Regions from separate parts of the Homo sapiens genome. Here all the other regions are linked to region 2. The links come from fine-mapping of genetic effects on gene expression. A gene starts in region 2. Each other region holds a variant in brackets. All regions are shown on one strand. Distances are from middle to middle.

Evidence for each region. PIP is the estimated chance that this variant, and not a neighbour inherited with it, causes the effect. A credible set is the group of variants that fine-mapping cannot tell apart.
Region 1: its variant is the best candidate, but not a certain one, in a credible set for the expression of C19orf18 in substantia nigra (GTEx, PIP 0.65).
Region 3: its variant is the best candidate, but not a certain one, in a credible set for the expression of C19orf18 in sun-exposed skin (GTEx, PIP 0.88).

What each region holds. Positions count from the first base shown.
Region 1 is chr19:57,891,924-57,897,266 of GRCh38, reverse strand. It overlaps a transcript of ZNF814 not described here. Among named protein-coding and RNA genes, the nearest start is that of ZNF814, 5.6 kb to the right of the region's middle. The variant G/A (reference allele first, on the strand shown) is at 2,565.
Region 2 is chr19:57,972,541-57,977,883 of GRCh38, reverse strand. C19orf18 (chromosome 19 open reading frame 18) reads left to right here and starts at 3,350. Exons shown (of 6, transcript NM_152474.5): 1 at 3,350-3,572; 2 at 3,681-3,785. The coding sequence starts at 3,452. It overlaps ZNF606 (zinc finger protein 606), which reads left to right. Exons shown (of 7, transcript NM_001348022.3): 7 at 1-808.
Region 3 is chr19:57,993,707-57,999,049 of GRCh38, reverse strand. The region is part of intron 4 of ZNF606 (zinc finger protein 606); the gene reads left to right. Among named protein-coding and RNA genes, the nearest start is that of ZNF606, 6.4 kb to the left of the region's middle. The variant T/C (reference allele first, on the strand shown) is at 2,136.

The sequences.
Region 1 (5,343 bases), 81 kb after region 2:
TCACCAGCCTTAATATATTCAGCCAAATGAGCCTTCCCTCTCATAGGTCTAATAGCATTTTGACACTCTGTATTAGCATTTTCATATGTAAGAAGCTGTATTACAACATCTTGAGCTGTTTTGTCAGTTATGGCCTTATTCACAGCCTCCTGGAGCTGAGCAATAAAATCAGTATATGGTTCTTTAGGTCCTTGTCAGACAGAACTGAAAAAAGGATATTTTTCTCCTGTAACATTTATTCTGTCACATGCCCGTAAGCACACAGTGCATAACTGAACAATGGCAACATTCTCCATTACTGCTTGATTTTCTAATTGACCCCAATTAGGACTGACTCCCTTTAACTGTTGAAAGGAAACAGGCACAGATGGCTGTGCTTGTGTTTTTTCCCTTGCCTGAGTTTGAGCTTCATCAGCCCACCGGGTTTTAAACTGTAAGTACTGAGATAGAGTGAGAACAGATTTTGTTAAAGTATCCCAGTCATATTTTATCAATCTATTATTCAGAGCCACATTTTTTAGTAAAGTTTGTACAAAAGGAGAATTTGGCCCATATTGACTAATGGCTTGCTTAAATTCCATTAATAGCTTAAAAGAAAATGTGGCCCAACTAGCTATATTTTTCCCTCCTTGCTGGGTGATAGTAACAGGAAATTGCCATGCTTCAAGGTCTCCCTCAGCTCTAGCCTTTTGAATAGAATTTTGTATAGCACCACCAATTGCTCCAGATTTTAATGTTGCAACTACAGGAGCAGTAAATTTTACAGCTAATTCATTTTCTCGCCCATTATGGGGAGGGAAAGGAGGTGGCCATTCACTTAATTCAGCAGGTGGAGCTGATGGGTTAGTAAAACATACCCTTTTCAGTTTCCCTTTCTTAATTTCCTCTGGTTTTTGCTCCTCGCATTCAGAATCTGAAGTTAGTTTTTTACACACTTGTCTTCCTCATCTGAATCTGTCTCGTGATCTGTTTGAAATGGCTCAAGAGCAGCCTTTATCAATGCCCACACCAACCAATCAGAAACTGGAATTTTGGCTCCTTCTTTATAAGCCTTTTTAAAATCTCTGCCAATTCTTTTTTTTTTTTTTTTTTTGAGATGGAGTCTCGCTCACAAAAGTGGCTCGCTCAAAGGCTCTCGTGCCCCTTTTTTCAGGTGCGCTCTCATGGCGACTGGCCAAAGAGGCACCCCTCTGTGCAAACGTAAAATTTCTTTGCTAAAAATCGTTTGTTCGAGTGTTCAATTTCCTTAAAATTTTGAGCGTTATTCCTGACACTATGTATAAACAAGTACCTAGGGTGGACGCATTCCTCCTCTGACTTTCGGGAAGAGCCTGCTCTGTCTATGGAGTGGCTATTCTGTCATCACTTTACTCTCTTAACAAATTTACTTTTCTTTGCACTGTGGACTCACCCTGAATTCTTTCTTGTGTGAGATCCAAAGAACCCTCTCTTGGGGTCTGAATTGGGACGCCCTTTCTGGTAACATCTTTCTGGTGAACCTTGAAGGGATGATACTGAAGAAACCCACCGGCCCAAAGGAAATAGGCTGCAGCACTAATTGGCCGACTTTGGGTAAGTGGTGGGGCACCTGGGTAAAGGATGAGATTGGGTTAGAGGCCCAGCTTAGGGAGTTAGAGTCTCTCCTAAGACAGAGAGGGTTAAAGTTTCCTCTCAATAAAAGGCAAGGACGTGGCCAGGTGCGGTGACTCACACCTGTAATTTCAGCACTTTGGGAGGCCGAGGCGGGCGGATTGCCTGAGACCAGGAGTTCGAGACCAGCCTGGCCAACATGGTGAAAACCCATCTCTACTAAAAATACACAAATCAGCCAGGTGTGGTGGCACACACCTGTAATCCCAGCTACTAGGGAGGCTGAGGCAAGAGAATTGCTTCAACCCAGGAGGCAGAGGTTGCAGTGAGCCGAGATCGCACCACTGCACTCCAGCCTGGGCAACAGAGTGAGACTTCATCTCAAAAAAAAAAAAAAGAAAGAAAAGAAAAGAAAAGGCAAGGAGGCTTGACTGACCCTGGGTTTGAGGCCCAATTTAGGAAGGTTAGAGTCCTTCCTAAGATTTAGTCCTTCCTAAGAGTTAGAGGCCCCTCTCAGTAAAGTCCCTCTTGGCTAAGAACTGGTTTGGCACCACAGGATGTCAACTTTGCATTAATCTGTCTTGTCCTCTTTGCTGTATGAATCAATCTCTTGGTTGCTCTGCTTCACTGTCATTTTCAGGGGACTTCATTTAACTTGTCTTAGGGCTTTTATTATACTCTTCCCCTGTGTGCCTTCTGATTTCCATCCATTTGCTTGTGAAACATTGGGAACAAAAAGCATTGAAGGCTCCGTTTCTAAAATTGCGTATTCAGGTTTGGTATTTAACAGCTATGAGCAATAAGATTAGATAGATGTGGCTATGATTTTTTTTTTTTTTTTCTGAGACGGAGTCTCGCTCTGTTGCCCAGGCTAGAGTGCAGTGGTGCAATCTCGGCTCACTGCAAGCTCCACCTCCCAGGTTCATGCCATTCTCCTGCCTCAGCCTCCCAAGTAGCTGGGACTACAGGCACCC[G/A]CCACCACGCCCGGCTAATTTTTTTTTTTGTATTTTTAGTAGAGACGGGGTTTCACCGTGTTAGCCAGGATGGTCTGGATCTCCTGACCTCGTGATCTGCCCGTCTCAGCCTCCCAAAGTGCTGGGATTACAGGTGTGAGCCACTGCACCCAGCCGGCTATGCTTTTTGCAGCTATGCCAACTAGGTGTGATCAAGAAGCACTAGGATACAAATCAGGGGACTTTTCTCCTTGCTGTTTTGTTTCATTTACAGACTAAAAACAAAATGAAACAAAATAAGAAAACCCACTTCTTTTCTTTCTTTGATTTGGGCAAATCGGCTTCTTTTTTTTTTTTTTGAGATGGAGTCTCACTCTGTTGCCAGGCTGGAGTGCAGTGGCATGATCTCAGCTCCCTGCAACCCCCACCTCCTGGGTTCAAGCAATTCTCCAGCCTCAGCCTCCTGAGCAGCTGGGACTACAGCCACCATGTCCAGCTAATTTTTGTATTTTTAGTAGAGACGGGGTTTCACCATGCTGGCCAGGATAGTCTTGAGCTCTTAACCTCGTGATCCCCTCACTTCAGCCCAAAGTGCTGGGGTTACAGGCATGAGCCACTGCACCTGGACTTTTTTTTTTTTCGAGACAGAGTCTCGCTCTGTCACCCAGGCTGGAGTGCAGTGGCACCATCTCAGCTCACTGTAACCTCCACCTCCTGGGTTCAAGTGATTTCCTGCCTCAGCCTCCCGAGAAGCTGGGATTACAGGTGCACACCAACATGCACGACTAATTTTTTTTTTTTTTTGAGATGGGGTCTCTCTCTGCCACCCACGCTGGAGTGCAATGGTGCAATCTCAGCTCACTACAATCTCCACCTCCCAGGTTTAAGTGATTCTCCTGCCTCAGCCTCCCGAGTAGCTGGGATTACATGCATGCACCACCACACCCGGCTTATTTTTTCAATTTTTAGTAGAGACGGGGTTTTACCATGTTGGCCAGGTTGGTCTCGAACTCCTGGCCTCAAGTGATCTGCCCACCTCGGCCTCCCAAAGAGCTGGGATTACAGGCATGAGCCCCCGCACCCGGCCATGACTAATTTTTTGTATTTTTAGTAGAGATGTTGTTTCACCATGTTGGTCAGGCTGTTGTCGAACTCCTGACCTCAGGTGATCCACCTGCCTCTGCCTCCCAAAGTGCTGGGATTACAGGTGTGAGCCACCACACCCAGCCAACTGACTGGTAGGAAATTCTTGCTGGGTGCAGTGGCTCATGCCTGTAATTCCAGCACTTTGGGGGGCCCAGGCGGGCAGATCACCTGAAGTCAAGAGTTGGAGACCAGCCTGGCCAACATGGTGAAACCTTGTCTGTAGTAAAAATACAAAAATTAACTAGGCATGGTGGTGCGTGCCTGTAATCCCACCTACTCAGGAGGCTGAGGCAAGAGAATCGTTTGAACCCAGGAGGCGGAGGTTGCAGTGAGCCGAAATCACACCACTGCACTCCAGCCTGGGCGACAGTGCAAGACTCCGTCTCCAAAAAAAAAAAAAAAAAAAATCAATAACAAAAAAGAAATTCTTACCCTTTTGCTGGCATTCCAGCATTCCAGGCTTCTGGTTTGCCTTTCCCTGAGAGCCTCTAGTGACCCAGCTGGCTGCACCACACCCTTGGGGGCCAATCTGCAATACAAAGCTAAATTATCTTTTTCCATTCTGGCCAGAGCAAAATACGTGTGACAAAACATACACATTAGCCACTCGGCTCCGCCTGGAATATCTAACAGGCAAGGCTCAAACTTGCCCTGGTTGGGCCCCATCATCTTTAATCCAACCTCCGACCATGAGTTTCAACTTGGTCTCTGGGCAAGATGGTCACCCTGAATAACAGAAAAGATAAGAAAGGGAAAGGAGACAGAGAAAAACATTGCCTGTGGCAGGGTGGGGAAGGCCAGGAGCTTAGAGAGGCCAGAGAAGCCCCCCCCACTCCCATTGCAGTGACACTGAAAAGTTCAGGTGGCTGCTTGTCAGTAGCAAGGGGATCTTTTCCAGCAGTCCCATCAGCTCGCAAGTTTTCCCTTTTGGGGAGGAAAAAGCTCCCCATGTCCCATGATCCTGTACATTCCTAGTCCTGTCACCCATAGCCATCAGCAAGGCAGATTATTCCAAAGAGAACAGCAGTTAACAGCCCATTGTGCCAAACCCATTCCTAGCCAAGAGGGACTTTACTGAGAGGGGCCTCTAACCCCCTAACTCTTAGGAAGTAATCTAATCTTCCTAATTTGGGCATTGAACCAAAGTTTGGTCAAGTGTCCTTGCCTTTTATTGAGAGGAGCCTTTAACCAGGAGAGACTCTAACTCCACCAAGTTGGGCCTGTAAACCAATCTCATTCTTTATCTGGGTATATGCACCCCACTCACTCAAAGTGAGCCAAGTGGTGCACACAGATGATTTTCCTCTGGGTTGGGGGTTTCTTCAGTGTCAATGAAAAGAGTCAAACTCTGTAGACTATGTGAAGAGATTTATTCTGAGCCAAATATGAGTGACCATGGCCTGTGACACAGCCCTCAAGAGGTCCTGAGAACATGTGCCCAGGGTGGTCAGGGCGCAGCTTGGTTTTATACATTTTAAGGAGGCAAGAGACATCAATCAAATACATTAAAGAAATACATTGGTCTGGGCCGGGTGCAGTGGCTCACGCCTGTAATCCCAACACTTTGGGAGGCTGAGGTGGGCAGATCACAAGGTTGGGAGCTTGAAACCAGCCTGGCCAACATAGTGAAACCGTGTTTATACTAAAAATACAA
Region 2 (5,343 bases):
AAAACTCTACAATAACATTTTGTGCATAATTGTAGAAATACAGATTTTGTTGTTATAAGGGGAGGGTCTGGGTGCCCAGGAGTAGAATATGAAGTGCTAAATCTGAATGTAAGAAAAATAATAGTATTGAATGGGGTATTTACTGTTGATTAACCTCCTTAGAGAAAATTAATGAATGAGATGACTAACGGTAGAAAAGTTATTGCCTAGGAGTGTGAGACTGATGTTGCTGGACAGAAAGTGATCCTTAGCCCAGTGTGTCAGCGTCCATTGTTACTCATCACTGCATTGTTGGGCAATTAGTTTGTAATTTGTTTTAGGCAATCACTATAAATTATAATTATGGACACTGCATCAGTATACATAACATGAAGGAATAAAAAGGATACAGAATTGTATATACATACTTACTGTAACACATCTAAAAAAATGTATATGGGTAAGGACCTGAAAGATCCATGGAAAAGTTAACCCAGTTGAGATTTTTAAAAAGTTTTACAAATACATATAACACTTATGTGCTGGGCTTTCTTTTAAATGCTTTCCAAGTGTTAACTTGTTTAGTCCCCTTTACTCTGAGATAGGTACTGTTACCCCAGTTTTACAAATGGCTAAGCTGAAGCAGAGATGTTGAAGGATCCTACCTAAGGGGCACAACTAGTAAGGGAGTAGAGCTGAGATTGGCTCCAGAGTTCTTGTTTTCAGCCACCATTTTATGCTGCCTCTCCAGTGATTTTTTTTCCCATTTTCTTCAGTGTTTCTATAGCAGAGATTTGATAATAAAAAGAAAATCCTAAACAATGAGAAATAAAGTTACCTGGTTTCTCTGTCTCGAAGGATTTATAGTAACATGAGAACTAGTATCCCTTTGGAATATGAAGTCTGTGTTGGACATTCAGAATCACTGCATTTTCTGGGACCTGAGTTCCCTAGAACTTTGCTGCCTGCAACCCCAAGGATAACAGGGCAGCAGGGCCTGGAGGACTTGCTGGAGGACTGGGCAAGTCCCTTGGTGGGTTTAGAATGCCACTTACAGAGCAGAGGGCAGGGGTGTTTGTTCCTTTCCATAACTAGACACCACTGCACTTCAGAGCACCATTACCCAAGGTTTACCTTGAATTCGGTCTTTTATTTTTTTGAAATCTTCTGCAGATGAAAGGCTTACTTGAAGGAGCAGGATTCAGAAGGGAAGAGAGCTAGCCAGTCCACCTAGAGTAATGAAGTCTCAGTGTTCACAGGGGAAAAGGGGAAAGATGGATCAGAAGACTTGGGTGGCTTCTCTCCAGTTCATAAGTATTTCTAAAACTGGGGGCCAAGGATCCTTCCTGGATAGGCTTCAAGGGTATTGAGTGGAACTTGGGCTCATAAAGCTCATCTAATTTTTAAAGGGCCCATGGCTTCCCAGTGGTTGAGAAATGATGGCCTAGTGATGTCATTGGGAGGCTGTTATTTTCACCTTCTGACTCTTCTAGCTTGGGCTCACTTAGGTGTGTAACATTTGATTGTAGTCCTTTCAAGGCCTGACACATTAGTGGTCACCTGATAAATGTGGCAGGGGCAAGTTAGTTATTGATGGATTTTTTTTTTACATGATTTGTGCAAAGGCCCTTGGAGAGAATGAAGTTAGCAGTATTATCTCATCTTGGAGAAAGCAGCATAATATATCCAGAATCATACTACCAGTAGGATGTGGATATTGTATTCTAATAGCCAGAGTGAATCCAAATTATCTGATTTAGAGATTCCAAAGGATTTCATAAGTCATATGCAATATACCACAAGCATCCTGGTAACTTATAACCTTATTACTAAGATTATTATCTTGAAAAAATTTCTAGGCCGGGCACCGAGGCTCATGCCAGCATTTTGGGAGGGACAGGAGGATTGCTTGAGCTGAGGAGTTCAAGGCCAGCCTTGCAACGTAGCAAGATCCCATCTCTGTTTAAACAGATAAGAGTTTTTTTAATGTCTTAAAGGGCCTCCTGGCAGGGCACAGTGGCTCACTCCTGTCACCCCAGCACTTTGGGAGGCCAAGGTGGGTGAATCATGAGATCAGGAGTTCGAGACTGGCCTGGCCGCCAACATGGTGAAAGCCCATCTCTACTAAAAATACAAAAATTAGCTGGGTGTGGTGGCAGATGCCTGTAATCCCAGCGGTTCCAGAGGCTGAGGCAGGAGAATCGTTTGAACCCAGGAGGTGGAGGTTGCAGTGAGCCAAGATTGTGCCACTGCACTCCAGTGTGGGTGACAGGGCAAGACTCCATCTCAAAAAAAAAAAAAAAAAAAAAAAAGGGCCTCCTGTTGGTCAGGTCACATCACGAGTCAAAAGAAAGTCCCAGACTTCTGCTTCTTCCTGGAAGTATTCCCTTCCTCTCACCTATCATGCACAGCCTGGACAGTATTGATTTCAGTGGTCCCTAACATCCAGCACTCCCAGGTCCCCTCTGTCTCCCTCATACATGACATAGTTCATTGCCTTTTTTGAGCCCGTCTTCTATTCCTCCCATCTCTGAAGCCTAGGGCCCACTTTCAGTCATCAGGAGTCCCCCTTTACCTTCCTGCTGTGGGTCTCCCCTGTGCACATTGCCTCCCTTCTAAGGGTGACTGCTTTCCTTCCACTTTCTTTTCTTTCTTTCTTTGTGCAGTGGTACGATTTTGGCTCACTGCTACCTCTGCCTTCTGGGCTCAAGTGATCTTCCTGCCTCAGCCTCCCGAGTATCTGGGACTACAGGTACACGCCACCATGCCTGGCTAGTTTTTGTTTTTGTGTTTGTTGTTTTATTTTTTTGAGACAGAGTCTTGCTCTGTCGCCCAGGCTGGAGTGCAGTGGCATGATCTCAGCTCACTGCAACCTCCACCTCCTGGGTTCAAGTGATTCTCATGCCTCAGCCTCCCAAGTAGCTTGAACTACAGGTGTGCACCACCACGCCCAGCAAATTTTTGTATTTTTAGTAGAGATGGGCTTTCACTGTGTTGGCCAGGCTGGTCTTGAACTCCTGGCCTCAAGCGATCTGCCCACCTTGACCTCCTAAAGTGTTGGGATCATAGGCGTGAGCCACCGTGCCCATTCCTTTTTTCCTGAACATTTTCCAAGTGAGGTTGTTGGAAATCACGGATGGGGAACTATGCATGCGGAGGGCTGACTGTAATTGATTTCTTTCTGCCTCCTCACTAATCTGCACACTGCAGGCAGGGACCTGGTCTCATCATGCCTGCACCTCCAAGCACTGCCCTCTTACACTGTAGTCTCCCCATTGGTCAGCATGGTTCCATGAAGGAACTCCATTATCACAGCAAGGACTGACCTCACACTGGTGGCTCCAAGTCACTGCCCAAACATTCTGAAGGGAGTAGAACTTCTTGATTCCTCAGATAAATAGAGGACAGATGCTGGACTGTAGCTAAGTATTTCCTTTCATCTACGGGATAAAATACTGATAATTTGAGAGTGATGGACAAGGTTCAGAGTGGTTTCCTCATTTTGTTTTTGTTTTTAATGGAATGCCAACTTCATTTATGCTTGCCGTATGCAGATGGACTCCATCCCACTGGAAACATAACAGGCTTACCAGGTAGCTTCAACCACTGGTTTTATGTGACTCAGGGAGAATTGAAAAGCTGTTTCAGGGGAGATAAAAAGAAGGTAATTACATTTCACCGCAAAAAGTTTTCTTTTCAAGGCAGTAAACGGTCACAACCACCCAGAAACATCACCAAAGAGCCCAAAGTGTTCTTTCATAAAACCCAGTTGCCTGGGATTCAAGGGGCTGCCTCGAGATCCACGGGTGAGTCATTGAATTCCTCATTCAGTGGAGTGAGAATCGTAGCCTGGAGTCCTCTTATCTGCCATGTGAATGTGTACTGTGTGCTTGCTGGTAGAAAGGTCCATAAAATAGAGTATAATTAGATAAACATTTGCTTGGAAATTAGATCTTATGCTCTTCACTCTCTGTTAACTGCTTTCTCTTTAGGGATTGCCACTTTCTTCTCTTTTTCATTTCACTTTAATAAGCGCACACAAAAACCTTGATCCCATCCAGATTACACAGGTATGCCTGTCTGACTTGAATTTGGTGCACATTTGGCAGTAGAGCATGCAAGTCTAGACACAGAAGGTTTGTGAGTGTACAGAATTCTTTTTTTTCTTTTTTTTTTTTTTGAGACAGAGTCTTGCTCTGTCGCCCAGGCTGGAGTGCAGTGGCGCGATCTCGGCTCACTGCAAGCTCCACCTCCTGGGTTCACACCATTCTCCTGCCTCAGCCTCCCAAGTAGCTGGGACTACAGGCACCCGCCACCACGCCAAGCTAATTTTTTGTATTTTTAGTAGAGACAGGGTTTCACTGTGTTAGCCAGGATGGTCTTGATCTCCTGACCTCATGATCCGCCCGCCTCGGCCTCTCAAAGTGCTGGGATTACAGGCATGAGCCACCATGCCCAGCCGAGAATTCTTTATAAGCATTTTCTATGGTTCCCTTCTAATTTGAGTACTAGAGGATGTTTGTTTATCTTATAACAGCAAAACCAACCCCGACAATCTTTGAAGCTCAGCAACCCTTTGTGGAGATATATGATGCTTGTAAATAATCTCCATTCCATGCAAGGGAAATGCTGTCTGTGTGATACATTTGCATGTAATTTGTGTCCGAGGAAAGGACACTATTGTTGGTTCCCTGGCCTCTCTGCCTGGCTCTCTGATCCTTTTTTTTTTTTTTTTTTTTTTTTTTTTTTTTTTTTTTTTGAGACGGAGTCTCACTCTGTCACCCAGCTGGAGTGCAGTGGCGCAATCTCGGCTCACCACAACCTCCACCGCCGGGTTCAAGCAATTCTCCTGCCTCAGCCTCCTGAGTAGCTGGGACTACAGGCGCGTGCCACCATGCCCAGCTAATTTTTGTATTTTCAGTAGAGACGGGGTTTCACCATGTTGGTCAGGCTGGTCTCGAACTCCTGACCTCGTGATCTGCCTTCCTCGCTGGGATTACAGGCATGAGCCACTGTGCCCAACCCTTGCTGACCTTCTAATGAGGTCGTAGCCCCTTCAACTCTAAGTCTCTCCAGGTCCTTAATTTGGGCAGAGATTTCCCAACTTGTATGACTGCAAAAGGAGACCAGAAACCAAAAGTATCCTGTTCCTAAAGGTCATTCTTCATGACAGGAAGCACCAGGTGCAAAAAGAACAGCAGGCTCACCAGGCTTCTGCAAATTAACCCACACATTGCTGCCAGGCATTGGGAGGAATGTATTAACACATCCCATCTTAGATATTTGGAAGCTGTGTGTTCGGCGTCCTTCTCTAATGCTAAGTTATTTCCTTGTTTTCCCAAGTTCATCTTAAACCATCTTAAA
Region 3 (5,343 bases), 21 kb before region 2:
AGGCCCTGAATGCTTGCTGCAGAACCTCAGAAGTCTTGGGATCAGGCGGCACCAGGGTCCAAAATGTGGTGATGGGTGTGGAAAGAAGAGGGCTGTGGGAAGCAGGCTGGTGTTTCAGGCTTCAGTCTGACCAGGGCCTTGGAGCTATGGAGGAGAGGTATAAGGAAATCAAAGCAGGGGCCTTTGTGATTATGGGGACAGGGTGGCTCCTGAGAGAAATAGGACAATGGAGTTACTTAGGAAAGGTGTCATCTCTCTGCCGTCCTCCTGCCCAGCCTCCTCACCAGATGCAGCCACTTAAAAAAATTTTTATAATAGCTTTATTGAGATGGTACTGACATATTATAAAGTTTATCCTTTTAAAGTGTGTAATTCAGTGGTTTCTCGTATAGTCACAGAATTGTGCAACAATCACCAGTATCTAATTCTAGAACATTTTCATCACCCTAAAAAGAAATCCTGTACCCATTAGTAGTCACTCCCTGTTTCCCCTACTCCCTCCCAACCACTAGTGTACTTTCTGTCTCTATGAATTTGCCTAGTCTGGACATTTCATAAAAATGGAATCATAATATGGCACAGCCTTTTTTGTCTGGCTTTTTTCACTTAGCATAATGTTTGCCTTCTCAAGAGTTACCCATATTGTAGCATTGTGTCAATATTTCTTTTAATGTAATGTAATTACAATGTAAATGTAATAAGTGTAATTACAATGTAATTACATTGTAAAAAATGACTGAGGCAGCCATTTTTAACTTCCTGTTTTCAGTTTTTTAGAGTTGTCTCTGTATTTCTAAATGGGAGATTTTTTAAATTGGTTTTTTCCTAATTCATTAAAGTTATATTTACTCTGTTAACTCCCTGCTATGAAAGATGAAGAAAAAGAGTTTCATTACTTATTTTTAGGTCTTTTATTTTTAAGTTAAGATAATGAATCAAGCAGATGTGAGATACTTGGATATAAAACAAGATTTAAAAATGATGTCTCTACTTTGTGCCTCCCCCTCAAATTAAAAAATATTATTGAAACCGCCCACAGTTTCAAATCTGGTGGGTGAAGTCCATCATAAGTATGCTGTTCCCACTTGGCAGTGTTGCTATCCCTGGTCCAGGTGAGATGGGAAGCAGAAGGGCCTGAACCATATGATGCAAGGTGATTGTTGCCTGGCATCAGAACTTGGGCAACTATGAGGTTTGCTGCTCTTACAATGTACAGTCATTATTAAATCCTAAGACAGAATAATCAGTAGTGAAGCTAGACTAGCCTGAAAGATGGCCCCTGAATCAGACTCTGAGGAGTAGAAGTTAGCTGTAATAAAACACTGCGAAGAAGCCCTGTTAACCACCATGCTACACTCTGCTGTTAATTTATGCTAGGCTTTCTGAGAATTATCTAAGTTAATGCTGAGAAAATAAAACAGAATTAAAAATAACAACACCCTCCAATGTCTGAAGAGTTGTGATTTCTGATAACATGCTCCTGGCTGGCCCCCCTCCCCACACTCTGGATTTTTTCCTGTGGGAAACTCGGATTTGACTGCTGTGTGTTTTTAACTAAGTGAGATCTTCAGGAATGCAAAAGAACCCTGTGTCCCTTTATTGTTCCCTCCAAGTTAAGTATTTATTGAAATAAAGCATTTATCTGGTGAAAACATCAAATGCTGTCATCCCTCATTATCTGAATAGTCCATTCATGGAAGTATGTTGAATAGTGAGGTTTTAACTACAGAAGCCCAGATCCCGTTATTTCTAGGAATAGGGGAAAATAATAATTGTAATGATAATATCTCATTTCATCTAAAAAACCCCAACCAGCCTTTCCAAATACGGAAGCATTCAAACCCCTCTGTTAACAGTCCACCTAGGATATCTGCATAACAAACATTATGTACATAAAACACCAATAATAGTCTGCACCCATGCTTGGTCAGACTTGAGGATGTGCACAATCTATTTATGTTTTCCTTCTCTGCAATGAAATCTACCACAGAAGCCATCTGAATTGCCCCAGGTTCCTTGAAGGGGGAGCAGTTGGGCAAGATCTGTCAGCAAACATCTGAGACCCAGCTCAGCACCTTTGGTCTCTCCTTCAGACTCTCAAAGGGTTTAAATGTGTGGCTGGTTTGTTAGCAGAT[T/C]CCATGAAGTGCTTAGAATGCCTAGATAAATGCTTATATGTGTGTACAAAGTGATGTGTGCAAGAATGTTTATGAGAATTTGGGTGAAACACTTTTGCAAGTCATCCTAGGATGTGATTGGAAAATACAAATGCAGCTCATGAGGGTGACCTGTGGACCAGAAGGGTTTGCTCCTCCCTGTAGCAGTACTCTTCTCTCTTTAGCACCCTTTCCCCTTAGCATCAGGCAACAGTGAAACCTGCATTTCCTCTCCTACCCTTGAAGGGTCCCTCTCATCTCCACAGCCTGTGAGACTAGGTTCCTGTCTTCCACCATCTCTTCCTTCTGGCCTTTTGGTTTTGCATTTTCCTTTGCAATTCTAGGCTGAAGGTGTTTACTGTGTCCCCTTACCAGCCATTTATTTATTTTTATTTTTGAGGCAGAGTCTCATTGCGTTGTCCATACTGGAGTGCAGTGGGACGATCTTGGCTTGATGCAGCCTCCCCTCCCGGGTTCAAGGGATTCTCATGCCTCAACCTCCCGAGTAGCTGAGATTACAGGTGTGTGCCACCACACTGGCTAATTTTTGTATTTTTAATCGAGACAGGGTTTCACCATGTTGGTCAGACTGGCCTCAAACTTCTGACCTCAGGTGATTTGCCTGCCTTGCCCTCTCAAAATGCTGGGATTACAGGCGTGAGCCATTGTGCCCAGTCCCCTTACCATCCTTGAGGTGAGGCCTCCATGATTTGTGGGCCCAGACATGGTTACATATTCAGCTGGGGGCAGCTCTTTTTTTCTTCCTGTTTTTTAGCCCATGGGGCTTACAGTTTGAAAATGTCCCCTTTTTCATTTCTAAATTTTTAAAAATTTATTTTAGTTTTAATTTTGGCACATTTCATAATTACAGAGAAGTGTAAAAAGGAAGCAAATGGCATCACCATCAGTGAACAATATTACTGTTTTGTCGTATTTGTTGTTTTTCTTCTTTTACTCTTTGTCTTTCCACCATTTCTCAGGCAACCACTCATGGATTCAGTTTGTACACAGCTAATTCATTTTCATATGCATACATAGATGATAAACTATATAGACATAGACAGTCTTTTTCTTTTTTTTGAGACAGTCACACTGCATTGCCCATACTGGAGTGCAGTGGCATGATCTCAGCTCACTGCAGTCTCCGCCTCCCGGGTTCAAAGGATTCTTGTGCTTCAGCCTCCCAAGTAGCTAGGATTGCAGGCGTGTGCCACCATATCTGGCTAATTTTTGTATTTTTAGTAGAGGTGGGGTTTTGTCATATTGGGCAGGCTAGTCTCAAACTCCTGTCCTCAGTGATCTGCCTGCCTCAAAGTGCTGGGATTATAGGTGTGAGCCACTGCACCCAGCCCAACAATCTATTTTTTTTCCCAATGATTTTTTTCTATATGTAGTTTTCCTATAGTTTTCTTTTTTCAACTTTGAGGTCCATCCATGTTGATAGATACAGAGAAGTCAGGCTTGTTCCTTTTGCGCTGCCGAGTGTATCCATTAGAGAAGTGCACCTCTGTGTTCATAGTTTCTTTTATGGGCAGGTTTATAAGTTCCTCTTTCCCCCATTGTTTTTGCTGCTCCAGTGAAAGCTGTGTGAACATTCCTGTGACTTCACTTTGTGCACGTGTTTATGTAGTTTTTATCTAGGCATACCCCTAGAAGCAGAATTGTACCTGGTTTTAGGTATGTACTTTTTTTTTTTTTTTTTTTTTTGAGTCAGAGTCTCATTCTGTTGCCCAGGCTGCAGTGCAGTGGTGCCATCTCAGCTCACTGCAACCTTGCCTCGCGGGTTCAAGTGATTCTCCTGCCTCAGCCTCCCAAGTAGCTGGGAGTACAGGTGCATGCCACCACGCCCAGCTAATTTTTTTATTTTTAGTAGAGGCAGGGTTTCACCATGTTGGCCAGGATGGTCTCAATGGTCTCCATCTCTTGACCTCGTGATTCACCTGCCTCGGCCTCCCAAAGTGCTGAGATTACAGGCATGAGCCACCATGCCCGGCTAGGTATATACTTTCAGTGTTACTAGTGCTGCCGCATGTCTCTACAAGGGGGCGAAGCTACTTGTCAGTCTCCCCACTCTGGGAGAAAATACCCCTTTTCCTGCATGTTTGTCGACACTTGACATTATCAGGTCTTTTAAATGTTTGCTTACCTCAGGACCAGAAAGGTATATTGCATTCCTTTAATGTGCATCTTCTTGATTGCTAGTGAGCTTAAGTACCTTTTGATGTCTTTATTGGCCATCTGTATTTCCTTCTCTCTTTGTTTCTCTTCCCCCATCCCTAGATTTCTAGGGACTGACTTTAATATAGGTATTTCACATGCATTCTGAATCCTAATTCTTTATCACATATCAACTAACTCCTCCCAGTCTGTAGCTTGTCTTAACTGGTGGTGTCTTATCAGTCAGATATTTGAATGTTGGTATGTTTTTGTCAAATGTGTCTATCTTTGTTTATGGCTAGTGTTTCTGTGTGTCTTATTTTAAGAAGTCTTGTGTTATTTAAAAAGTAATAATTCCCTCTTGTCCTTTTCCTTTAGGTTCTCTTTCTGGGCTCTTCTGTTAGCTGCTGGACCTCCTGAACAAATTGCCGTGTCTCTGATCTCTCTATATTCCATGTCCTTTTCTTGGTGGGGGTTGGGGGCCTGATGATCATGTTCTCACCACAGCAGAACTCTCTAGGGCCTCCTGAACTAGTTGCTGTGTCTTCTGTTCTTTTCTTAGTCTGTGAAGGCTTTCCTATTCTCTCAGCCTCTCTTGTAGCATCCTGTCCCACTTTATACTGAAATCACTCTGGTCTGAGAATCTGAGAATAGGAATTAACAGGTCTTTGAAAGTTGAATGTGGCTGTTGTCTGGATTCTCTGGCCTTGTGGCTACTTAGTTCAGTCGCTTTATCTGTGCATCAGGTGTTTCTCATGTCCAGGAGACGTCTGGTCTGTGTGTGTTTCTCAGGGCAGGGCTGTGAGGCTGGAAGTCCTGTTCTACTTCAGCTGCATAGATCTGATTCATGATTGGTGCCTTCCACTCCGCTCTGTGCTCCTGGTGAGGCATGCCCTGGGTTTCGTGGGCCTGCATGGGCCAGGGTCAGCTGGTCAGTTCTGCTTCCAGTTTCATAGATATAGAGCTGTGAGGCCACAGACTCCCTTCTCTTCCCCACCTGGTGGGACTGAAGAGGTCTCCACTCACCTGGGCA